Homo sapiens: one gene and its partners. The protein of the gene in region 4 purifies or fractionates together with the protein of the main gene of each other region. This does not show direct contact. Each region holds a gene or a part of one and is shown on either strand. Other genes may lie near its edges. The genes, in order: VASP, IGF2BP3, RPP30, RPP38, PSMA5, RPL22 and YBX2.

Region 1 (3,500 bases), on a different chromosome or scaffold from region 4:
GCAAACACACAAACGAGATGCAAGAGACAGACGCAGAGAGAGGTGGGAAAGGGAGAGTCGGGTTGACAAAGAGGAGAGACAGACTGAAGGCAGACAGACAGATGAACAGATGGGGGAGGGGTGGGGAAAAAGGATGGGCAGACAGGGGACCTGGAGGAAGAGGCAGACACAGAAAGAGATAAAGATGGTCTTGGCGTGGTGTCTCACACCTGTAATCCCAGCACTTTGGAGGTTGAGGCAGGAGGATCACTTGAGCCCAAGCATTTCAGAGCAGCCTGGGCAACATAGTGAGACCCCATCTCTAATAATAATAATTATTATTATTATTTTTATTTTTGTTTTTGAGACAGAGTCTTGCTCTCTGTCACCCAGGTTGGAATGTGGCCTCGACCTCCTGAGCTCAAGCGATCCTCCCACTTCAGCCTCCCAAGTAGCTGGGACTACAAGCATGCACCACCACACCCGACTAATCTTTTTTTTTTTTTTTTTTTTTTTGAGACAGAGTCTTACTCTGTCACCCGGGCTGTCCTCGGCTCACCGCAACCTCTGCCTCCCAGGTTCAAGCCATTCTCCGCCTCAGCCTCCTGAGTAGCTGGAATCACAGGCATGCACCACCAAGCCCAGCTAATTTTTTGTATTTTTAGTAGAGACGAGGTTTCACCATGTTGGCCAGACTGGTCTCGAACTCCTGGGCTCAAGTGATCCATTTGCCTCAGCCCCACAAAGTGCTGGGATTACAGGGGTGAGCCACCACACCCAGTCCACAAAAAAACTTTTTTAATGAAAAATAAAAAACACAACACAACAAAACTAATAAGAAGGAAAAGATAAAGATGGAGAGACAGGCTGAGGGGTGTAAGAGGCCGAGGCCAATGCCAGTGGGGGGATGCGGGTTAGCAGAGCAGAGGGCAGGAGGGAAGACAGAGGGGCCAGAAGGAGGCCAAGAGCCCAGAGCTGCACTAGGGACCAGCCCCTGCCTGACCTCAGTTTCCCTATCTCTACGCACCCCCCTCCACCACTGCCTGCTCAGGAAGAAGCTGAGGCTTGGGAGGGGAAGTGTGAGGCCTGCAGCAGGTTGGGGACCCATCCCAGACCTCTGAGCTCTTCCTCCAAAGGGACTTCCCGCTGCCCACCCCTCGCCTGGCTCCCCAGGGCACTAGCGGCCATTCCCCAGATACTCCCTGCTCTGTGTCTGGCCTATATTGGGTGGGGCTGGGGATGAAGACACAGCAGTGACCCAGACAGCTCCGGCACCACCCTCCTGGGGCTCACAGTCCAGTGTGGGAGACACAGCTGTCCCCAGACGGTACCAACCCAGGTTTAGGACCAAGGAGCCCAGGGTCTGGGGGTACCCTGAAGGAACGCCTGCCCCAGCCTGGAGAGTCAGGCAGGACTTCCTGGAAAAGGCAACGTCTGACTTAGCCTGGGTGGGAGGTGTCAGTAAACTGGTGCAGAGTTCAGGAGCTGATATCCCCAGACCTGGGTTCAAATCCCCACTGAGCCACCTACTTCATGTGACTCAGGCACATGACCTTCCCACTCAAGACCTCTTCTTGCCTGTGAACTGGGAAAATGACAGTCCCCACCTCCAGGGCAGTGGGGGAGGGGCACATGAATCTGGGCACCTAAAGGGCTTGGTACAGCCGGGTGTGGTGGCTCACGCCTGTAATTACAGCATGTTGGGAAGCTGAGGTGAATGGATCGCTTGAGCTCAGGTGTTCGAGACCAGCCTGGGCAACATGGTGAAATCCCGTCTCTACAAAAACGTACAAAGATTAGCTGGGCGTGGTGGTGTGCACCTGTAGTCTGAGCTACTCAGGAGGCTGACGCAGGAGAATCGCTTGAACCCAGGAGGTGGAGGCCGCAGTGAGCTGAGATCACGCCATTGCACTCCAGCCTGGGCGACAGAGTGAAACTCTGTTTCAAAAAAAAGAAAAAAAGCTAAGTGCTTGGTACAGCGTCCAGCACACGCCGAGAGCTCAGTAACTGTCAACATCCCTCTCATGGGCACCACTGGGGCCCGGGACAGCTACAACCCTCGGGACCCTCCCACCAGCCCCTCTGGGAGGTTCAATCCCCTCTCCCCCAGTGAGGAAACTCAGGCCTAGACAGGAACTCAAACAGGAAGTGACTTGCCCAAGGTCACACAGGGGAAGGGGAAGCACTGGTCTCCTCCCCACCCCACCCACACCAGGCTTTTTCCTGAAATGGGGAAGTTGGTGGTCAGAGGTTTCCGGGGACAGAAATTAGACACCCCCCGCAAAGCCTCTGTCTCTAGGAGGGCTGGGGGCTGGGTGTGACACTGATGCTGGGAAGTCAGGGCAGGGAAAGTCCCTAGGCAGACTCAGCTGTGGGTAGGGACCTGGGGTAGGGACCCTCAAATTTACCTAATTGTGCCATCTCCCTCTTACTAGGCATTTCAGGTGGATCAGGGGCCTTAAGCCCCTCCCCCAAAGTCACTCATTTTATTCTCACTGCAGCTTATCCAGAGAGCCACTCATTCTAATTTTGCAGGTGAGGACTAGAGGCCCAGAGAGGTTGAGTGACTTGCCCACAGTCACACAGCTACTGAGGAATAGAGTGAAGATGTGAATTCAGGCTTCCAAGCCTTAACCACCGGGAACTGTGTGGGCCCCACCCAAACACCAGGTGCCCTTTCCAGACAAACACAGCCTCGGGGGCTGTTTCTGGCTCCTGCTGCCCCTGGCAAGGCAGGGTTAAGGCCTCGGCCTCACCCACACCTGCCACCCACACCCAGGGCCGACTCTGGCCAGGAGCCCGGGGCTGCTGCTGCCCCGCCCTGGCTGCACTTTGCTCTCCCAGGCAGCCCTGCCCTACTGAGGCTCTGGACTGGCCGGAGAACAGGGCGCCTGCTGGGTGACCAAGGGGTGGTCTTGCCCCTCTCCAGGGAACACTATACCCATTGTAACAGAAGGATCCTGTTAAAACACGAGGTGGGGCGGGGAACGGTGGCTCATGCCTGTAATCCCAGCACTTTGAGAGGCCGAGGCGGGAGGATTGCTTTAGTCCAGAAGTTCAAGACCAGCCTGGGCAACACAGTGAGACCCCCCATCTCTAAAAAACAAAACAAACTAACAAAAACCTACAAGGTGGGATGTCTCTTCTTCTTCTTGAAGGCTCCAGGCTCCTACGGAATCAATGCCAAGTTCTCTCCAGGGCCTCCGTGATCTGTGTGTCCTCAGATCTCATTTCTTCCCGCTCCACTGTCCCTTGGGGACTCTGTTCCAGACCCTAGACCTCCTACCCCCATGCTGCTCTTCCCGCAGGCCAGACACATTCCTGCCTCGGGCCTGTGTGCTGCTTCTTCCTCAGGCCTAGCCTCTCCCCACTTTCAGGTCTCTCCTTAGATGTCACCCCTTCCAAGAAGCCGTCCCTCACTCCCTTAGCTGGAAACGCTTCTCTCCTTTTCATCCCCTGCTGCACATTTCATAGCAGTGACCCCTGCCCAACACAATATTTGTCTGTCTCCGCTGCCAAAA
Region 2 (3,500 bases), on a different chromosome or scaffold from region 4:
CCTGTCTCTACTAAAAATACAAAAAAAGTAGCCGGGTGTGGTGTGGCACACACCTGTAATCCCAGTTACTCAGGAGGCTGAGGCATGAGAATCATTTGAACCCGGGAGGTGAAGGTTGCAGTGAGTCAAGATTGTGCCACTGCATTCCAGCCTGGGCGAAAGAGTGGGACTGTGTCTCCAAAAACTTTTAAATAACCACCATGGCACATGTATACCTATGTAACAAACCTGCACATTCTGCACATGTATCCGAGAACTTAGAATAAAAAAAAAAGAAAAAAGAAAAAAGAAAAAAAATTTTTTTAAATAAGAAAAACAATTACTAAGTTTCTTCCCCTGCCACCTCAAAGTCCCAAACTTTTGTTGTGATATTTGAAAACACATGTTGACAACCCCGCTATCCAAAAACTGCAAAATAATCCCATGTCTACTCCACAAAGGGCCAAATAAGAAGGCTCCATTAGCAAGAACTGGAGAGCATATGTTGGCATCTAAACAGATGATCACGCGGGGACTAGGTTTACATTAAGATTTTGCCCAATCACAAAGAAAGCCAAGGCCAGTTATCTTACCTCAAACTGCGGGTAGGGAGGAGTCATGGCTGAAGGGGGCCCTGAGGTGGGAGGTGGCATCCCTGAAGTGGGTGGGAACAGACCCAAGGCGTTCAGATTTAATCCAGGAATTAAATGTGCTTGAAGCTGCAACAGTAAAAAGGCCCCTTAATTTGACAATTAAAAGAATCAAGGGAAAGTGAGCATTTTTAAGTGACAGTATTCAAACTGATCTCTTGTCTAATAAAGAAATGATTGTATAACTCAAAGCAGATGTTCCATGGGACTCTACTTGAGTACATCGTTTACATCTGTTTATATCCCTTGGTATTTTAAAATCTGTGTGCTGGTTTGCCCCCTCCTTGGTCCACAGCTGCATTAAGATATCTCAAGGGAAGCTTTCCTTTCCCTTATGACTAGCCCACAGGACTTAGACAAAACCGTATTCTGCATGCTGTGGGCAAACTAAATATAGACAAAAAGCAATGTATCAGAGTTGAAGAGGTAATCAAGTAAGATTGGTTCATTGAAAAGCAAACCAGCTATTAAGAGATCTTTACTTGCTGGGTAAAACTTAGCAACCATGGGTCTAGAGGCCTCAAAGTTGAGCCCTCTGGAAATCAGGACCCATCCCCATGTAACTACTGCAAGTAAACATATCACTGGAATGGAAATAGGAGCCAGAAAGGGTATTTTAATTTGTTTAATTTTATAAGGGTTGAGGACGTAATGTAGACGGTGGAAGGGAGATTTGAGTGTACTTGAAAATCTTTTTAAAAGGCCTAAGGGGGTTAGATTTAATCCCAGTTGATTCCAGAACATTTGGAGCCAAGCAGTGAGAATTGAAGCAGGTTGGCAAGAAGTCACGTGGGGTGTAAAATGGCTAGCATTCTAGGCTCTTCTCACAAACGCAGTATTTGCACATTTCCCTCGTCTCAGGTTTTGTGTTTCAGATGACTGGCCCAATTGAAAAAAAATTATTTTTTAAAGTCATTTACTTTAAAATTTAAGACAGGCTTTTGAAGTATTCCATTTTCAGCACCATTTCACTGATTAAGGAATGTCAGCAATTTGCTTTAATAGCCTCAGATGCACTACACAGATTGTTTTATCAATTGAAATTCTTGTATCTCCAAGGTTTATATGGCTAACCAAGTTTTAAACCTGTAATCTTAACATTAACTTTTATATGCATTATATCTATTGTAATCCTAATAAGAATGCAAGGTAGGCAGTAGTCCCATTTTACAGATGAGTAAACTGAGCCTCAGAGAGACTGAGTAAATCATATAAGAGAAGAGAGCTGCAGCTCATAAATGGTTCAGCTGTGATTCAAATCCAGTTCATGTAACATTTCTTCTATATTAAACTCTCTCAAATTAACATTGTAAGAGAGGTACTATATTAACCTTTGTAGGTAGACACTAGCCTTACTTCAGACAGAAGGAAGCTAAGGCTCAAAGACTGAATAATTTGCTAAAGTCACAGAGACAGCAAAGCTTAATGTCAAAGCCAGTATCTTCCCTACTATCCCAGGGTACTTGCTGAGGTGCTAAAAATCAACTAGAACTACTTCTAGTGATAATGCCACAAAAGAATTCAATATTAATGCAGTTAAAAACATTGTTTTAACTATTTGTTAAAATAAAGACATGCCCTTCATAACAAAACTAACATTCATAGAAGCAATATCATTTTCATAAGACTCCCTGATTTTCTTCATGATCTCCTCCTCAGCTTTGGCACATGTCTCAACATTGCCTTTAACTGTAATAGTGCGTTCTGGATTATACAGCGTCAATTCCTGCAATCTGCAGAATGAAAAAGAAGGGAAAGAAAAAGAATGAAAATTGGAGGAAGACAGCTAATAATTCAGCCACAGACGGCAATTAAAAACAAACTGTGGAGCCTGGTAATATGTAAAAGTGGGTGGTAAAACATGATGGGAAATGAGTAAGCCCCAAAAGACGTAAATCCGAAACTGTAAAGCTGCAAGAGAGAAGAAAATATTTGCCCTCCCATTTTCTCAACTAACGATTACTGGATACATATAGTTCAATCAAGTCCATATTTTAAATAAAGCTTACTTCTCAACCGCTTAAAGTTGAACCATTTTCACAATTGAACAGTGAATTAAAAAATGACTGGAAAGATGTATAGTTTTTGAGGAAACCAAATACCCTAAGTACATAACCTTTCATAAGTATGTTCCTAGTCTGTATTAACCAATTCTAGGCATAATTGGCATTCTCGTGCAATTGCATTTTCTGGGTCACCAAGCAAGGAGAAAGCATGGAAATATTCCAAAAACACAAGCCAGAATTCCTGTGTCTAAACTTAGTTTTTACCAGTTTCTTTAGAATTTAGATTGAAGTAGGCTGGAGGAATATCAATCCATCTTGACTAAAATTTAAAATGGTTCACCGATGCCATTTAGATAACAAAAACGTTAGATAGTGGCAGAAATATTCAGAAACTCCCTGCGGGACCTAGGTCCTGCTGAACCTTCAAAAGCCACTGAATATCATACCTGAAAACACCTAAGCCTATGCTGGTCAACAGCCTTGAGAGGAAAAGCAATGGGAGACATGTGCCATGGAAAACAGAACTAAGTACATAAATTGAGAGGATATGGATTATTGGTACAAATCTCCTTCATCTTCCTGAAGTTCTCATTTTCACTACTAGTATAATGTCACAGGCTAACCTTGAGCCAGATGAATGGGAAGTTATTCCTTAACATTTTCCTCAAACTTGTTAAAAATGTAAACATTTGTATAATGAAGACTATTTCTCTTAGACTACTTTAAAAAGAAGTCTATAATTCTAATTCAGTCTCAACCTGGCCCTGCCAAGCATTTTGTATTACAGTTTTAAAAATAGCTGCTTCTAGAATAACTTTTGAGATTTTTTTCTTTTAAAACTCTCCCCTTTCTGGGGGTAAATTTA
Region 3 (3,500 bases), about 76 Mb from region 4:
CAGAGTATCCGGAAGATGTCTCATAGAAACTCCCTCTCCATAGCTACTTAAGGAGATAAGGCAGAGATTAAAGATTTTGAGGGGGTCCATTGGTTAGGGCTCCTTGGGATGGGGGACAGCTGTGGAATATGACACAGAGAGAGAGTTGCATAGAAGCTTCTGGAGCTTCTGGACCAATTAATTATTCCCATTTAGGATTTAAAGCAGCTGAGCAGGTTGAGGAGAATTCAGGTTATTTAGTCCAGTGGTCTCTAACCTGCTTTGATTGTGCACCCTATCAGTTTAAAAAATTTTTGAGCCTGCTTCCAAATATATATATGTTTCTTATAAATTATTCGCATCTCTCATTATACCAGTGTGCCTTATAAAAACTACATACACACAAAACAGATCTTAAGATAGTGAATTAAAAATTAAATGGGCCAGGCATGGTGGCTCACGCCTGTAATCCTAGCACTTTGGGAGGCCGAGGCAGGCAGATCACGAGAGGCCATCCTGGCTAACACGGTGAAACCCCGACTCCACTAAAAATTCAAAAAATTAGCCAGGCATGGTGGCGGGCACCTGTAGTCCCAGCTACTCAGGAGGCTGAGGCAGGAGAATGGTGTGAACCCGGGAGACGGAGCTTGCAGTGAGCCAAGATTGCACCACAGCACTGCAACCTGGATGACAGAGCAAGACTCCGTCTCAAAGAAAAAAGTAAATGGAGGCTGGATCCAGTGCCTTGTGCCTGTAATTCCAGGACTTTGGGAGGCCGAGGCAGGATGACCACTTGAGGCCAGGAGTTCAAGACCAGCCTGGGCAACATAGTGAGACCCTGTCTCTATTTTTAAAAAATAAAAGTAAATGGAAATAAAAGTTTTATTTTCTTCCTGCTCCTGAAATTCATGCCTTTCCTTTGCAGAGGACTGTTGTAGTGTCTTGAGGAAGGGAGTGTCCTGGTGTTACTTGCAGTATGGTCTGGCTCCACTGGCTTTAGAATTACCTGGGATATTTATTAAAATGCAGATCATTAGGCCATACTTAATGAATCAATGGAGGTAGGGCCTGGTTGTCTCCATTTTTGATACATTCTTTAGGGGAGTTTTGTACACATTAAAGTTGAGTGCCACTGTTGATGGGCATCTCTCTTTTTCCTTGGTAAGCCTGATTGTCTCTTCACAATTTATCAAACTGATACCTTTGAAAGGGATTCAGGGAGGAATATGAACCCCTACAGTCCTATTCCTTTTGTGCCATAGAGGCAAAGATGTGTATATATGTGTGCATTTTTATGGGAATACGTTTTCTTTAAATTGTCATAGGAGTCTCTGGCCAAAAAAAAAAAAAAAAATTGGTATGGACAACTGATGTGAATTATTATGTAACCTACTAGTTTTCAGAGAAAACCATTATAAGATTCTTAACCCCAAGGCTCTATTGGGCATAATTTAATCTTCTAAAATGATATAGAAAGCGTTTCATTGTAGTGTGAACATTAACTTTTATTTTGTGGTTATCTAAAAGTATTGATTGAACATTTTGGTTAATAGAAAACTAAATAACAAAATAATTCAGTTTGGGGCATTCTAAGGTTGAAGTGTCAGAGGGAGCCATGTGGAGCTGTCCCTTGTAACTAAAAGTTTATTATAATGCATGTATTTGCACGTACTTAAACCAACATAGAGCCATTGTTTAATTGGCCACTCTTATGTAGGAAAAGGGAAGAAAGGAACAATGTGTAAGTAAAAAGTAACCTAATTTAGCTTTATTCTGGGGAGAATGTTTAACAGGCTTTTAAAGAATTAATCACCTTTTTAAACTGAAGAAATAATTTACATTCACAATGATTAATTTAAACAGTACAAAGGTACTGAAAAGTATGCCTTACTTCCACCTAAAATTCCTTCCCCATTTTTTCCAGAAGCAACCACTAGTAATAGTTTTTGTGTATCTTTTTAGAAATATTATTTACCTCGTCTTTTTTTCCTTTGTTCTCCCCTTTCTCCCTTCCTCTTTCCTTCCTACCTAACACCATGCTTCTTTTACCTTACAGTTTCTTAGAGGTTGTTCCATAATATCCATTAGAGATGTACATCATTTCCTTTAATGAGTTGGCATATTCCATCATATAAAGGGATCATAATTGAAGTAAAATTGAGGGATGTTTAATTGTGTCTAGTCTTTCATGATTGGTATTGCAATGACTGTCATTGTACTAATGTCCCCTGAGCCTTTGTAGGGTATATAGCTACGTAATATATTTTTAGAGTCTCTGCACTTATAGAGACTTCTCTATAGGAGACTCCACTTATACCTACTACATACCTATAAGTAGAATTGTTGGTGTGTGCATTTAAAATTTTGGTAGCCATTGCTAAAATGCTTTTCAAGACCTTATACTGATTTAAAGACCTTTTGAGTGCCTGTTCATTCATTCTCATGTCAGCAAGGTAGTACCAAACTTTTTTATCTTTGCCAGTATGATCGATAAAAAATGGTGAACAGAGCTGAATTTGTTTCAGCTATCATTCAGAGCTTTTCTTCATCCACTCTTATTAAATTTTCAGTGACTCTTTTATGAGTTGGACAGCTGTGGCAGTTGGGATGGGGCAGATTCTTTATGAGCCAAGTATTTCTGCCAAAACAACATTGCTTCCCAGGCTTACTAAGTTACTATGACTGTCTTAAAGCTAGCCAGCCTCTGATCTCTACTTCCTAAAGCCCTGGGGTTGGAGTAGGAGTGACTGAAGTGGGGATTCTGAAGAAAAAGGGCAAGATACGGTATTCCTGTCATTGCCGAAGGTTGGCACCAATCCTATAGGTCATTTTCTCCACTCTTCCTTACTCTGCCCTTTCCCCTGGTACATGCCACTGATGTTGTTTGTCAGCGTAGCCATCCTGGAAGTTTGAATTTGTCTGTCAAGCCTGTACACACTAGCATTGTCAGTAAGCTTTGTTTTTAATGTAATACATAACAGCCAAATATTTTTATCACTATAAATCAAATAATGGCAAAATCAGAGCCAGGTATGTTTCTTCCAGCAGTGTCTTCTGGCTTGCCCTCTACACTAGTAACCTTTTCCCAGCTTTATTTTTCTTCCCTGATTTTCCATTTATCCTGATTTTCTTATCTGTTTATTTTATCTTGTATGTGGTTTTCATAAACAGTTTCAAATCTCTTTGAGAAGAAAATGCAGAGTATTACTCAACAAGTCATAGCAAAAATTAAAACAACAGAAAGGGAAATTAAAAGTTGAGAAAATGCATTCATTATCATTTGCTTTGTAGTAGCTCTGCTTTAACTATTTATGTAGATTCCTTCTATTAGTATTTGAACAAATGTCATGAGGTGCTGTGTTCATATTTCTTTAGCTACTCAGTAGACTTGATAGGAGCCACAGCCCTGGGACAATTCTTGGCACAGAGTTGCTCAATAAATAGTGTGTGGGATAAATGGACTATGCATACATTCCATTTGGCTTATTTTTTCCTTGGGTTTTAGAATAGTCAGTTTCTTC
Region 4 (2,201 bases):
TCTAACTTGTTACTGTTTTCCAAAATGCTATCTAGTTGGGCTTCCATGCATTCACTCAACAAATATTCTAGGCCTGGCACACTGGCTCATGCCTTCAGTCTCAGAATTTCGGGAGGCTGTGGTGGACAGATCACTTCAGCCCATGAGTTCGAGACCACTCTGAGCAAATGGAGAAACCCTCTACAAAAAATACATAAATTAGCTAAGTGTGAGGCGTACCTGTAGTCCCAGCTACTTGGGAGGCTGAGGTGGGAAGATCACTTGAGCCCAGGAGGTCAAGGATGCAGTGAGCGTGATTGTGCCACCACACTCCAGCCCAGTAACACATCTGACCCTGTCTGCAAAAAAAAAAAAAAAAAAATGATCTGAGCACCTCCAGTATGCAAGTGGTGTTCTAGGTCCTGGGGCTCACAGTAAGCAAGACCCGATGTCCACCCACGTAGAGCTCCCAATCTGCAAATACTCTGGTGGCCTCTGCCATTCACAACCAATCAGGTGTGATATTTTAAAGAACTGAACAGTCATCTCATGATTAAAACTTCAAATAACACTGTCACGTCCACTTTTGTAAGTCTCCCCACCTCCCAGGGCCCTAAATTTCTTGAATATCCTTCCTACAGCATTTGATACATATGCAGGCATACACTCCCTTTTTTTTGTTTTTTGAGACGGAGTTTTGCTCTTGTTGCCTAGGCTGGAGTGCAATGGCATGATCTCAGCTTATTGCAACCTCTGCCTCCCAGATTCAAGCGATTCTCCTGCCACAGCCTCCGGAGTAGCTGGGATTATAGGTGCCCAACACCACGCCTGGCTAATTTTTGTATTTTTAGTAGAGATGGGGTTCACCATGTTGGCCAGGCGGGTCTCGAACTCCTGACCTCAGGTGATTCACCCACCTCAGCTTCCCAGAGTGCTGGGATTACAGGAACGAGCCACCACTCCCGGCCAGTCCTCCTTTTTAGGGGGACCCCGAGCTGACTTCTCTGGCTGGCAATTCCATGAAGACTAGGGAAATGTAATGAAATTTAAAGATACTAATCCATTGAGGAAAAATGAGTAGAAGGATGCTTAATGGGGAAAATGTTATAAACTATTGGTCCAGAGGGCATATCCTTTTATCCTTCCCAGAGGCAACTACACACTCCCTTCTCTTCCCTCAGTTTTCTTCCCTTCCTTCCTGGGGCTCAGCTAGAATCACAGGGACCCACCTGGCAAAACTAAAGGAAGTTATATCCTTTGCATTTATACTACCACTTACTAGGCTGGCAGCTGATGTTGAAGGCAAGTGTGTCTGTGCAGTGTATCGCTGTATAAAGCACTCTCTCCATGTATTATTTGCTTCTTACAGCATTCCTATAGAATCCCCCAATGTGTGCATTAGGAAACTGACTCACTGCCTAAAGTCACAACTAGTTTTCCAAATCCAAGTTTTCTGTTCTTTCAATCCTTGCTACACCTCAAAAATAACCTGTGGCTTCTTAAAACATGCAGATGCTTGGTCCTCAACCCAGATCTACTGAATTGGAATCTTCAATAATAAGGCCTGGGCATCTGTGCTTATAAAAAGCTGCCCCAGGCCGGGTGCAGTGGCTCACGCCAGTAACCAAAGCACATTGGGAGCCCAAGGCGGGCGGATCATAAGGTCAGGAGTTCGAGACCAGCCTGGCCAATATGGCGAAATCCCGTCTCTACTAAAAAATACAAAAAAATTAGCCAGGCATGGTGGTGCCTGCCTGTAATCCCAGCTACTTGGAGGCTGAGGCAGGAGAATCTCTTGAATCCAGGAGACGGAGGTTGTAGTGAGTCAAGATCGCGCCACTGCATTCTAGCCTGGGCGACAGCAAGACTCCATATCAAAAAAAAAAAAAAAGTTGCCCTCGTGAATCTGATTCAGAGCCGGAATCAGGAACCACTGGTGTAGGACAGGGTGTTTCCACACTGGACAGCCCCGAGAAAGGGCCCCCTGAGCGCTATTGGTCTCTGATATTCTTCCCAGACACTTTCCCACAGAAAAGCCAAATTCAGCTCCTTAGGGTGAGAGATCACACCCTGGTCATCTCGGTACAGCAATCCTGGAGACTTCTGGGGCCTAAGCTGCTTCCTTCACGGTGGCCACACTGTGTCCCCTGACCCCATTATCTCTATGCTCCCCTAGAGCTCAGGAAATCAGGAAGAAAAGTGGCTCATCCAGATGCAATGCA
Region 5 (3,500 bases), on a different chromosome or scaffold from region 4:
GAGATTTGGAAGTAACTTGTGCTTAGCACTCTCCCAGGCTGGAGTGTAGTGGCACCATCTCGGCTCACTGCAACCTCCGCCTCCTGGGTTCAAGTGATTCTCATGCCTTAGCCTCTCAAGTAGCTGGGATTACAGGCACCTGCCACCACGCCCAGCTAATTTATGTGTTTTTAGTAGAGACGGGGTTTCACCTTGTTGGCCAGCCTGGTCTCGAACTCCTGACCTCAGGTGATCCGCCTGCCTCATCCTCCCAACGTGCTGGGATTACAGGCGTGAGCCACCACGCCAGGCCAAAAGCACTACTATATGACATGTTACCTGTTGTAAAGTCTGGACTCCATAAACCACGGATTGCAACCATCTCATTCATTTGTTCACATATTTTTTGTGTCCATTGTGTGCTCAAAGCTTTTATAGCTGAGACCATGATTGGTGCCTCTTCTCCGTAGGGATTTCCAGCACACTTGAGCAAGGAAAGGTGGAAAGTGTTAAGTGTTAAGGGGAAGTGTTTAGAGAGGAAAGCAGTCTGACATGTAAGTTATATAAATATTGAGTGAATGAACTAGGTTAGAATTAGGAACTACATGGATCTCAGTCTGTTAAGATAACAATAGTAATTCATACAAATAAGTAGAGAAATGTACCTGTGACTAACTTTTAGTAAAAAGTAATAATTAGGCCCAGGCACAGTGGTTCATGCCTGTAATCCCAGCATTTTGGGAGGCCGAGGCGGGTGGATCACGAGGTCAGGAGTTCAAGACCAGCCTGGCCAATATGGTGAAACCCCATCTCTACTAAAAATACAAAAATTAGCCGGGCGTGGTGGCATGCACCTGTAGTCTTAGCTGCTGGGGAGGCTGAGGCAGGATAACTGCTTGAACCCAGGAGGCGGAGGTTACAGTGAGCTGAGATCGCACCCGCCTGAGCGACAGAGCGAGACTCTGTCTCAAAAAAAAAAAAAAAAAAGTAATAACTGTGTTTTATAGAGATTGTCTGAATTAGGGGGAAAACTCTTCCTACTTGCTCCACGAGTCAATACCTGTTAGGAGACTATTACAAACGTTAGGTGAAAGGTAATGAGGGCATTGAGAATGGAAAGAAGAGTGATAACCCCAAGTATTAACGTCATATGCATGTTATGGGAAGAGGATAAGGAAAAATGCACATTTTCTTGGAAATTGGCTGATAGTTTTGAGGCATGAACTTACCAAAGGAACTGGTAAGTCTATTCAGAATGGATCCAAGTTGATTCAGGATTGAGGCAGAAAAGTCATTTGCTCTCATTTCATCAATTTGGGAAGACTTTCTGGGAGTGAGGCAGAAGTGTTCTATATATAGGTTCCATTGCCTTGAGAAACTGTTAATGTACAAAAAAATGCTACAGATTGTTGTGGGCGAAGTAGAGAATAATGACAATGTGCGTATTCTGTAGCTATCTGAGCTAGTTGTCAAGGAACTTGAATTCAGTGTCTACATGGCTAGTTTTTATGAGTATAATTAATAATTTTTTTTTAAATTATAGGGGCGTGAATACTTTTTCTCCCGAAGGAAGATTATTTCAAGTGGAATATGCCATTGAGGCTATCAAGGTATAGTAGCAAGTAGCATAGGTCCTGAAATTTCATGGCTACCTAACATTTTGCTGGCAGAACACTTGGAGTAAATGTGGTTTAACCATTCCTTTAGAAAATGTTCTTATATCCCTTTAAGCAACCACTGTTAACCATTTTTATAACAGTTTCAATCCTATTCCTAATATCTATTTTAAAACTTTTTGAGCAGTTAACTGCTTCATAATTATCTAAATAGCTTTTTCTCAGTGGGGGTGGAGGGACATATTTGTGCTTTTGATCCTCTTAGCTATAAAGAGAGGTACAGAAGTCCAGAATTAGCACCTGTATTACTTTTTCTGTTTTGTTTTCTTTAGCAAATCATGTATCTGACCACCTTTGTATTCTTTCTTTTTCTTTCTTTTTTTTTTTTTTTGAGATGGAGTCTCTCTCAGTTGCCCAGGCTGGAGTTCAGTGGCGTGATCTCAGCTTACTGCAACCTCCGCCCCTCGGGTTCAAGTGATTTTCCTGCCTCAGCCTCCCAGTACCACCAGGCTGGTCTCGAACCCCTGACCTCAAATGATTCGCCCATCTCAGCCTCCCAAAGTGCTGGGATTACAGGCGTGAGCCACCACGCACAGCCCACCTTTGTGTTCTTGTTGGTAAAGTCACCTTAGGGACTAAATAAGAGATTTGTTTTAGTGGTTTTTTAGAGACAGGGTCTCACTCTGTCACCCATGCTGGAGTACAGTGACACCATCTTAGCTCACTGCAGCTTCTAACTCCTGGGCTCAAGCTTTCCTCCCACCTTAACCTCCCTAGCAGCTAGGGTACAGATGTGTGCACCATGCCTGGCTAATTTTTTTTTTTTTTTTTTTTTGGTAGAGATGTGGTCTTGCTATGTTGCCCAAGTTGGTCTCAAACTCCTGGGCTCAAGTGATCCTCCTGCCTCAGCCTCTCAAAGTGTTGGGATTTACAGGTGTGAGCCACCACACCTGGCGTGGACTGGATAATTCTTTGTTGTGGAGGGCCATCTTGTACATTTTAGCATGTTTATCAATTCCTGGGTACTACCCATTAGGTGCCAGTAGCACTCTTTCAGTTGTGACCATCAAAAATGTCTCCAGACTTTGCCAAATGTCTGGTGGGGACAAAAGGGCCCCCAATTGAGAATCACTCTTCTAGATAAAAAGTATATATGAATTCTGTCCTACTCTGTTCAGTTAGGGATTCAAGATCAGTATACTATACATAAAACAATTAGAGAACAACTAAGTGCTAAATTAAGTTTTCTGGCAATGGTTTCTGATTATATATTTGTTTGATTTTTAAGGTATACATGCATGTAGTTTCAGAGTTAGAAGGCAAAGTAGTTCTATAAACCTTGTAACAAAAATAGCAATTCTTGAGGCCTGCATCATCTAGGTTCAGCTTTTCAGAGGCAACACTTTAAATTGTTTCAGCTGGTAATGTTCTAGGACTGTACCTCCATATCTCTATAACACAGATGTATGGTTTTTTTTTATTAGGCATTATCCATGGACTTTTCATTATGAAAGATGAAGATTTCTGCCCTAACCCCACACCCCTACTCCCCACCACACACAATTGTCTTCTGAGGTGGGGATAGGGTGACCCTCTCCATATATATCATGAATATCATAATTTTGTAAGATCATTAGTCAATAGTTACATTAGTATAACTAAATGCTTTTCACAGCTGAGCCATTTTGCATTTTATAATTATTTTTCTGTTTCTGCACAACATTGTTTTTCTTGGAGTTAATAATTCTCTTTTTAAAAATATTTGCTTAATTTAGGATGATCAATAATGCATTCCAAAGTCTCTCCAGGTTACATGTATCCTCTCAAAACATTCAGGCAAATTAAGTGTCCTATTAAGGATTCCTTTTTTTTTTTTTTTTTGAGACAGAGTCTTGCTCTGTCACC
Region 6 (3,500 bases), on a different chromosome or scaffold from region 4:
GGGAAAAAAATCAGGTTAAAAAAAAAAAAAAAACCCTGTACAGGCCAGGCAGGGTGCCTCATGCCTGTAATCCCAGCACTTTGGGAGGCCGAGGCGGGTGGATCACCTGAGGTCAGGAGTTCCAGACCAGCCTGGCCAACATGATGAAACCCCCTCTCTACTAAAAATACAAAAAATTAACCGGGCGTGGTGGCAGGCGCCTGTAATCCCAGCTACTCAGGAGGCTGAGGCAGGAGAATTGCTTGAACCTGGGAGGCGGAGGTTTCAGTGAGCTGAAATCGCGCCATTGCACTCCAGCCTAGACAAGAAGATCAAAACTCGTTTTCAAAAATATAAATAAATAAAAACCCTGTACAAATTCAGAGACAGAAAAAGTTCTAGATTCGGGACACCTTGAACCTTTCAGGAAAATTAACTATTATCATCAAGAAAGGAAAGCTGTAATAGATGATTAAGGCACCTTCCCTACTCCACTGGATAAAGAACAGAAAGTTTGTGAAAACGCAAGTGACGCATGTCAGGAGATACCCTCACCCTGGTAAACAGGTCACAGAAAGGTAGCAGAATCTTCCCCAAGGGCTCTGCTACAGCCCAGCAGGCCGGACGCTTTGTACCCCCACCAGAAGCCCCATTCTCACTGCTTCCCAGGCAGACTGTGAGGACTTCACTTAAGCTTCAAAGTCTCTTCTTCACGGACATAGCTAAACATAAAAGCATTAACTACAACCAATTTGTACTAACATACCTTAAAATTTCCCACCACTTGATTTAGTATGTTGGTTTTCTTTTGTTTGTTTTTTTTGAGACAGAGTTTCGCTCTTGTTGCCCAGGCTGGAGTGCAATGGTGCTATCTTGGCTCACCGCAACCTCCGCCTCCCTGGTTCAAGCAATTCTCCTGCCTCAGCCTACCCAGTAGCTGGGATTACAGGCATGCACCACCACACCCAGCTAATTTTGTATTTTTAGTAGAAACGGAGTTTCTCCATGTTGGTCAGCTGGTCTAGAACTCCTGACCTCAGGTGATCCTCTGACCTCGGCCTCCCAAAGTGCTGGGATTTAGTATGATTAAAAGCTCCTAACAGGCCACAGCCCCAGGCTAGGAGCTGAGTATATGCATATCCAATTCTTCAGCAACTGGTAAAGTATTTTAACCTCATCCTCAAAAACCAACACATAACAGAGGAGGGAACTAGCAAATTAATGTCTCCATTTTGAAATGAAAGAAAATGGGCCCCCAGGAATTAACTAGAGTGGACTCTGTCTAAACTGAGGTCTTCAGATTCCTTGTTCAGTGCCAAAGTAGCACTTACAAGGGAAACAACTGGAATTCAAAAGGAAAGCTCTTGGTCAGACACAGTGGTTCATGCCTGTAATCCCAGCACTTTTGGGAGGCCAAGGCAGGTGGATCACCTGAGGTCAGGAGTTCAAGACCAGTCTGGCCAACACGGCGAAACCCCGTATCTACTAAAAATACAATAATTAGGCCGGGCGCGGTGGCTCACGCCTGTAATCCCAGCACTTTGGGAGGCCAAAGTGGGTGGATTACGAGGTCAGGAGATCGAGACCAGCCTGGCCAACATGGTGAAACCCTGTCTCTACTAAAAAACAAAAAAAATTAGCCACGAGTGGTGGCAGACACCTGTAATCCCAGCTACTCAGGAGGCTGAGGTAGGAGAATCGCTTGAACCCAGAAGCCGGAGGTTGCAGTGAGCCAAGATCACGCCACTGCACTCCAGCCTGGGTGACAGAGTGAGACTCCGTCTCAAAAAAAAAAAAAAAAAAAAAAAAGAGGCCGGGCGCAGTGGCTCACGCCTGTAATCCCAGCACTCTGGGAGGCCGAGGCGGGCGGATCACGAGGTCAGGAGATCGAGACCATCCTGGCTAACACGGTGAAACCCCGTCTCTACTAAAAATACAAAAAAAAAAAAAATTAGCCAGGCGCAGTGGCAGGCGCCTGTAGTCCCAGCTACTCGGGAGGCTGAGGCAGGAGAATGGCGTGAACCCGGGAGGCAGAGCTTGCAGTGAGCCGAGATCTCGCCACTGCACTCCAGCCTGGGCAACAAAGCGAGACTCTGTCTCCAAAAAAAAAAAAAAAGAAATACAAGAATTAGCTGGGTGTGGGCCAGGCGCAGTGGCTCATGCCTATAATCCTTGTACTTTGGGAGGCTGAGGCAGACGAATCACCTGAAGTTAAGAGTTCGAGACCAGCCTGGCCAACATGGCAAAACTCTGTCTCTACTAAAAATACGAAAAATTAGCCAGGCGTGGTGGCACATGCCTGCAATTCCAAAAACTCGGGAAGCTGAGGCAGGAGAATCGCTTGAACCTGGGAGGCAGAGGTTGCAGTGAGCCAAGATGGCGCCACTGCACTCCAGCCTGGGCAACAGAGCAAGACTCGGTTTCAAAAAAAAAAAAAAAAAGTAAGCTCTTACTGTGATCTAGAGACAGGAGGCAATTTTTTTTTTTTTAATTGAGATAGGGTCTCACTGTGTCACCCAGGCTGGCCTGCAGTGGCACAATCACAGCTCATTACAACCCTAACCTGCTGGGCTCAAGCCATCCTCCCACTTCAGCTCCCCAAGTGGCTGGACTACAGGCACATGTCACCATGCCCAGCTAATTTTAACTCTTGTAGAGATGGGGGTCTCACTATGTTGCCCAGGCTGGTCTCAAACTCCTGGGCTCAAGCAATACTCCTGTATCACCCTCCCAAAGTGCTGGGATTACAAGCATAAGCCACTGTGCCCAGCCAAGAATATTTTTGAGAAAACAGTCTTGAAAGCAAGTCTGAGTACCTTACTGTTTAAAATACTTTAGCCTGGCCGGGCATGGTGGCTCAGGCCTATAATCCCAGCACTTTGGGAAGCCAAGGCGGGTGGATCACTTGAGGGGAGGAATTTGAGAGCAGCCTGGCCAACATGGTGAAACCCCCGTTTCTACTAAAAATACAAAAATTATCCGGGCATGGTGGCAGGTGCCTGTAGTCTCAGCTACTCAGGAGGCTGAGGCAGGACAACTGCTTGAACCCAGGAGGCGGAGGCTGCAGTGAGCCGAGATCGCGCCATTGCACAACAGCCTGGGCGATGGAGTGAGACTCCAGCTCAAAAAAAAATAAAACACTTTAGCCTGTGAAAGACAAAATTTTAAAACCACCAAAAGTTGACTATTGTTAACAACCATAATAGCATTCATCCACTGCCTCCTGCACTGAGCATAGTTCCAGAAATTAACAGATGCAAACCAATCACTCTGCGGGTGCCCCCACTCCCATGCAGGGAAAAGGCGGGCTGGGCACTGGGTGCACGCAGGCCACACACACACTTCCCTCCTGTACCTTTTGGAGAAAGGCACCTCGGATGTCACGGTGATCTTGCTCTTGCTCCTTTCGATGGTCACCACCCCTCCACCAAGGTTCCCAGCTTTTCCGTTCACTTTGATCCTTTCTTGCAAAAACTGCTCCTGTAGAAATCATTAAATTGACCAATGAAGTGACAAGTTCA
Region 7 (3,965 bases), on a different chromosome or scaffold from region 4:
AATTCTGACGGACGTTTAGTAACCCAGCACAAGTGCGGCTAATGGTGGTTGACACAGGCACCCAAGGCGGATGGGCCGTTGTGAAGAAGAGCCAGAGAAACATGGCGGAGCGCACTGCTAAGGATTACAGCAAAGGCCTTCAAAGACGGCCGGTTCTTCCCCTCAGAAAGCTAACCTAGCTCTTACCTGGTGAACAAAGACATCTTCCTTGGTGTCATTCCTGCAGAACAGGATGGGTCGTTAAGGAAGGGACTTCAACAAAGCCCTCAGCTCCTCACTGAGGTCCCCCTAGATGCCCAGTCTAAGCTCAGTGGGCCCATCCTCTCCAGCATTCCAGTTAGGGGTGGACATGGCCTGGGGAATGGGAGGGAGAGCCAGCAGGGCCCCCAGAAGCTGGTGTAAAGAGAGATACACCTAAAACCTCAGTGCCAAACCTGGACTTCACAAGGAAAGGGCAGGCTGGGGAGGCAAAGGCACCTTGAGGAACCTCAGACAGCTCTGCCCCTGCCGGGACTCCACCTTCCACCCCAGGCTAGCCTTACAACCTGCCAGCGCTGGGTGCAACTGTCCCTGGCCAACACCCCCTCCCCCAACCCCCATCAGGGTTGGAAAATTCCAGTCTTCTTCCTTCTATAGTCAAGGAGGCAGAAAGTGCAGATGGGGCCAGAGGGGCAGAACAAGTTTGAGAAGGGAACAATGTGTCAGGAACTTGCTCTAAACAGCTGCCAAACTTTATTCTCATCCTCAGCCTGGAGGTGAATCCCAGAGTCAGGACCACTCTCAACACGCGTGGGACCAAGGGTGAGAGAGAAGAAAACATTCACCCATTCTCTATCATAAGAACCCCAGTGGGTGGGGGGAGGGGAGAAAGGAAAAGTTTTCCTGGAGGCACTCTGCCCCCGACCCAGTCTGCCATTTCCAGAATTAGACAGGGACCCTTCCCCAGAACAAACGTTTTAGCTTTAAAGCACTTGGATCTGCACAAAGGTCAGCCTGCTAAGAGGGAACTAGGGCCTCCCAGGAGAGCCAGGCCGGGCAGGATGCCTGGGCTGGGGAAGGGCCCACTGGGGGAGACCTGGCTCTGCTCAGAATCCACTGCCACAGCCTCTCCCGGTGCTGAGGGGTGGGGCTGCCTACTGAAGGAAAGCAGCAGCCTCTGGCTCCTTCCTCCTGACCCCCACTGTCAGCCTCAGTCCCAACAGGTGGAGGGCTCGAATGAGCCACAGCTCTTTAAGGGAGTTGAGTTGTGAGTGCTGCCATAACAGGAAATCAGTTGAGGATTCCAGCCGGGGGCCCTGAGGCACAGAGAACCCTATAATACATTCTGCCCCAAAGGCATGTCAGAGTAAAAGTAATGAAGCAATTCCAGAAGGTGAGATGAGAAGCTGGCAGGGTCAGAGCCAGGTTTGCCAAGTTCCTGAATCATTAATCCTCCGCTACCCTTGAAGATGCGGAGGAGGCTTCCTCTTGTCACGAAGCACACATTTGTGCTGCGGTTAAAGGCTTTCAACCAGCATCAGCTGGACATTGCAACCATGTGCCTCCGCAGGGGTCGATGAGGTTGGGCGGGTGTCCAGTCCCACAGGCCAGCTGGGAAGACACCCATTCCACCCCCGCCCTGGGTTCCTTGGATACCTGTTGATGAATCCGTAACCATTCCGGACGTTGAACCATTTGACAGTGCCCAGGACTTGGATTGCTGCCAGGCAGAGATGCAGTGGGGACAGTGAGATGGGGGGAAGAGATGGAGTTGAACTCAGTTTTGAGACACTCCAAAACAAAAAAAAATCTAGCCTACTGCCTTATTACCTATTCAGGTTACCTTCAAGCCAACCAGGTTTCACTAGTAGCTTCAAGGTATTCCTACCCTAGTCCACCAAATGAAATCACCCACACAGGGACTCAGGCTTTCAAAAAGCCTTCCAACTCTAAGTCACGTTCCCCACATCCTACAAATCCAGCCCCTTCACCTAGAACTGGGTACTCACCTGGTCTGCAAAGTGCCGCCCCCAGGTCATAACTGAGGGTTTTTCTAGCCCTCCCAATGCAAGGGTCCCCAGTGCACCTGCTTGCCAGGCTCAGAGGTTTGCCTAGTTCTAACCCAGTCAACTAGGCACTGTGTCCCGCCCGGGGGCGTGGCCGGACCCTGGGGCTTTATTCTCCACCCCAAGACCTTAGCTGAACCTGCCGGCCCCGCCCTCTCTCCCAGGAAGGTACGGCAGGATTTCCCACCAGGGGAATCCACTTTGGTGCGCAGCTCCCAGCCCAGTTAGCGCTCTGGGCCTGCGGGCCAGGCCGCCTTTGGTTTTCCGGATCCTGCCGGGCTCCACACTGCCCCTCCCCCAGCCCGCCGACCCCTCAGAGCCGCCCTGTGCGCGCCTGCCCCTCACCCAGCACCGGCTTGTCCGCCTGACTCCGGGCCGGGGGGGCGGGGGTTCCCGAGACCGCCGTCGCCGGATTGCCAGGGGTGCGGGAGCCCGGCGCCGAGGGGGTCCCAGCAGCGGGGCCCGAGGCGGCTCCGCCCCCGCCGCCCGCCCCGCCGCCTTTCTGCGGCTCCCCTGCGGGCACCGGTACCACCACCGCTACCACCCCTGCCGCCGTCGCGGGCACCGTCGCCGCGGGGACCGCTGTAGCCCCCGCTGCCGCCTCCACCTCGCTCATCCCGCCGGGTCCAGTACCGGCCACAGCCGCCACCGCCCCGGCCCCTCCCCCCGGCTCGCGAACCCACCGCCCTGCTCGGTCCTCGCGCCCCGAGCCTCGCCCACACGCCGGCAGCGGGCCCGGAGCCGAGGCCAATGGCAGCCCGCTGCCGCCGCTCGCGCAGACCCCGCCTCCCGACCACGGGCCAATCCCAGCCCAGCAGCACCCCCGGACCGCACGCCGACCCCGCCTCCCGGACTTCGCACCGCGGCCCCGGCCCCCGCCAGCCGCCCAGTAAGTACACCTGGGCCCCGCCCCCTGGCCGCCACGTGACGGCCCCCGGCCCAACCCATTGGCCGGCGGCCCCTTTCCCCTCCCCCCTCCGCCCCTTTCCACCGGCCGCGGGAAATCAAACGGGCCGGTCGCGCCCCAACCGCCACCTGGCCTCTGCGGGAAGGGCGGGGCCGGGGCCGCAGTGCCAAGGTTGCCCCTAACGACCTGAGCGAGGGGCGGGAATCTGCAGCCTCGGTTCTGGCAGTGAGTAGCACCGCTCGCCTCCACCCTCGAGACCGACCTTGCCCGTATGCTGCCAGGTGCAGACGCCTTCCGGCCACCACCGCCCTTGGCACCCTCTCCCCACAGGACGGCCCTGCACACCCTGGGGCTGCGGGATCCAACCGCAGGATAGGCTGGAAAGCGCAGCAGAATGGTTTTCCCGGCTCACACTTGCTCCCATGAGCCAGGACCCCCTACTTTTCTTTTTTCTTTCTTTTTCTTTTCTTTTCTTTTTTTTTTTTTTTTTGAGACAGGGTCTCGCCCTGTCGCCCAGACTAGAGTGCAGTGGCGCGATCTCGGCTCGCTACAACCTCCGCCTCCCTGGTTCAAGCGATTCTCCTGCCTTGAGCCACCTCAAGGTGGCTCCCGGCCTGCCCCTACCTATGTTTGTATTGGAAACAAGGTTTACAAGTAGTACAATGCGCAATTCTTCTTCGCTGAGTTTGTTTGTTTGTTTGTTTTGACACAAGGTCTCCCTCTGTCGCCCGGGCTGGAGCGCAGTGCGCGATCTGGGCTCACTGCAGCCTCTGCCTCCCGGGTTCAAGCGATTCTCCCTCCTCAGCCTCCTGAGTACCTGGAATTACAGGCTTGCGCCACCACAACCTGGCTAATTTCTGTATTTTTAGTAGAGATGGGGTTTCACCATATTGGCCAGGCTGGTCTCGAACTCCTGACCTCTGGTGATCCGCCCGCCTCAGCCTCCCAAAGTGTTGGGATGACAGGGTAAGCCACCGTGCCCGGCCTTCGCTGAGTTTTGATCAATGTGTCCA

The links.
Region 1: the proteins of RPP38 (region 4) and VASP fractionate together in Homo sapiens (co-fractionation; one large-scale study listed by BioGRID). This does not show direct contact.
Region 2: the proteins of RPP38 (region 4) and IGF2BP3 purify together in Homo sapiens (co-immunoprecipitation; one large-scale study listed by IntAct). This does not show direct contact.
Region 3: the proteins of RPP38 (region 4) and RPP30 purify together in Homo sapiens (affinity purification with mass spectrometry; 3 studies listed by BioGRID and IntAct, with this or other methods). This does not show direct contact.
Region 5: the proteins of RPP38 (region 4) and PSMA5 fractionate together in Homo sapiens (co-fractionation; one large-scale study listed by BioGRID). This does not show direct contact.
Region 6: the proteins of RPP38 (region 4) and RPL22 purify together in Homo sapiens (co-immunoprecipitation; one large-scale study listed by IntAct). This does not show direct contact.
Region 7: the proteins of RPP38 (region 4) and YBX2 purify together in Homo sapiens (co-immunoprecipitation; one large-scale study listed by IntAct). This does not show direct contact.

Annotation. Positions count from the first base shown.
Region 1 is NC_000019.10:45,513,979-45,517,478, reverse strand, and holds part of VASP (vasodilator-stimulated phosphoprotein), read right to left. Parts: intron 1-3,500. UniProt on the Homo sapiens protein: Ena/VASP proteins are actin-associated proteins involved in a range of processes dependent on cytoskeleton remodeling and cell polarity such as axon guidance, lamellipodial and filopodial dynamics, platelet activation and cell migration.
Region 2 is NC_000007.14:23,341,492-23,344,991, forward strand, and holds part of IGF2BP3 (insulin-like growth factor 2 mRNA-binding protein 3), read right to left. Parts: intron 2,363-3,500; coding exon 2,227-2,362; intron 699-2,226; coding exon 573-698; intron 1-572. UniProt on the Homo sapiens protein: RNA-binding factor that may recruit target transcripts to cytoplasmic protein-RNA complexes (mRNPs). This transcript 'caging' into mRNPs allows mRNA transport and transient storage.
Region 3 is NC_000010.11:90,881,974-90,885,473, forward strand, and holds part of RPP30 (ribonuclease P protein subunit p30), read left to right. Parts: intron 1-3,500. UniProt on the Homo sapiens protein: Component of ribonuclease P, a ribonucleoprotein complex that generates mature tRNA molecules by cleaving their 5'-ends. Also a component of the MRP ribonuclease complex, which cleaves pre-rRNA sequences.
Region 4 is NC_000010.11:15,100,355-15,102,555, reverse strand, and holds part of RPP38 (ribonuclease P protein subunit p38), read right to left. Parts: intron 339-2,201; 5' UTR 220-338; intron 1-219. UniProt on the Homo sapiens protein: Component of ribonuclease P, a ribonucleoprotein complex that generates mature tRNA molecules by cleaving their 5'-ends. Also a component of the MRP ribonuclease complex, which cleaves pre-rRNA sequences.
Region 5 is NC_000001.11:109,419,949-109,423,448, reverse strand, and holds part of PSMA5 (proteasome subunit alpha type-5), read left to right. Parts: intron 1-1,522; coding exon 1,523-1,589; intron 1,590-3,500. UniProt on the Homo sapiens protein: Component of the 20S core proteasome complex involved in the proteolytic degradation of most intracellular proteins. This complex plays numerous essential roles within the cell by associating with different regulatory particles.
Region 6 is NC_000001.11:6,189,596-6,193,095, forward strand, and holds part of RPL22 (large ribosomal subunit protein eL22), read right to left. Parts: intron 3,460-3,500; coding exon 3,335-3,459; intron 1-3,334.
Region 7 is NC_000017.11:7,291,840-7,295,804, forward strand, and holds the start of YBX2 (Y-box-binding protein 2), read right to left. Parts: upstream 2,801-3,965; 5' UTR 2,662-2,800; coding exon 2,391-2,661; intron 1,700-2,390; coding exon 1,636-1,699; intron 221-1,635; coding exon 187-220; intron 1-186. UniProt on the Homo sapiens protein: Major constituent of messenger ribonucleoprotein particles (mRNPs). Involved in the regulation of the stability and/or translation of germ cell mRNAs. Binds to Y-box consensus promoter element.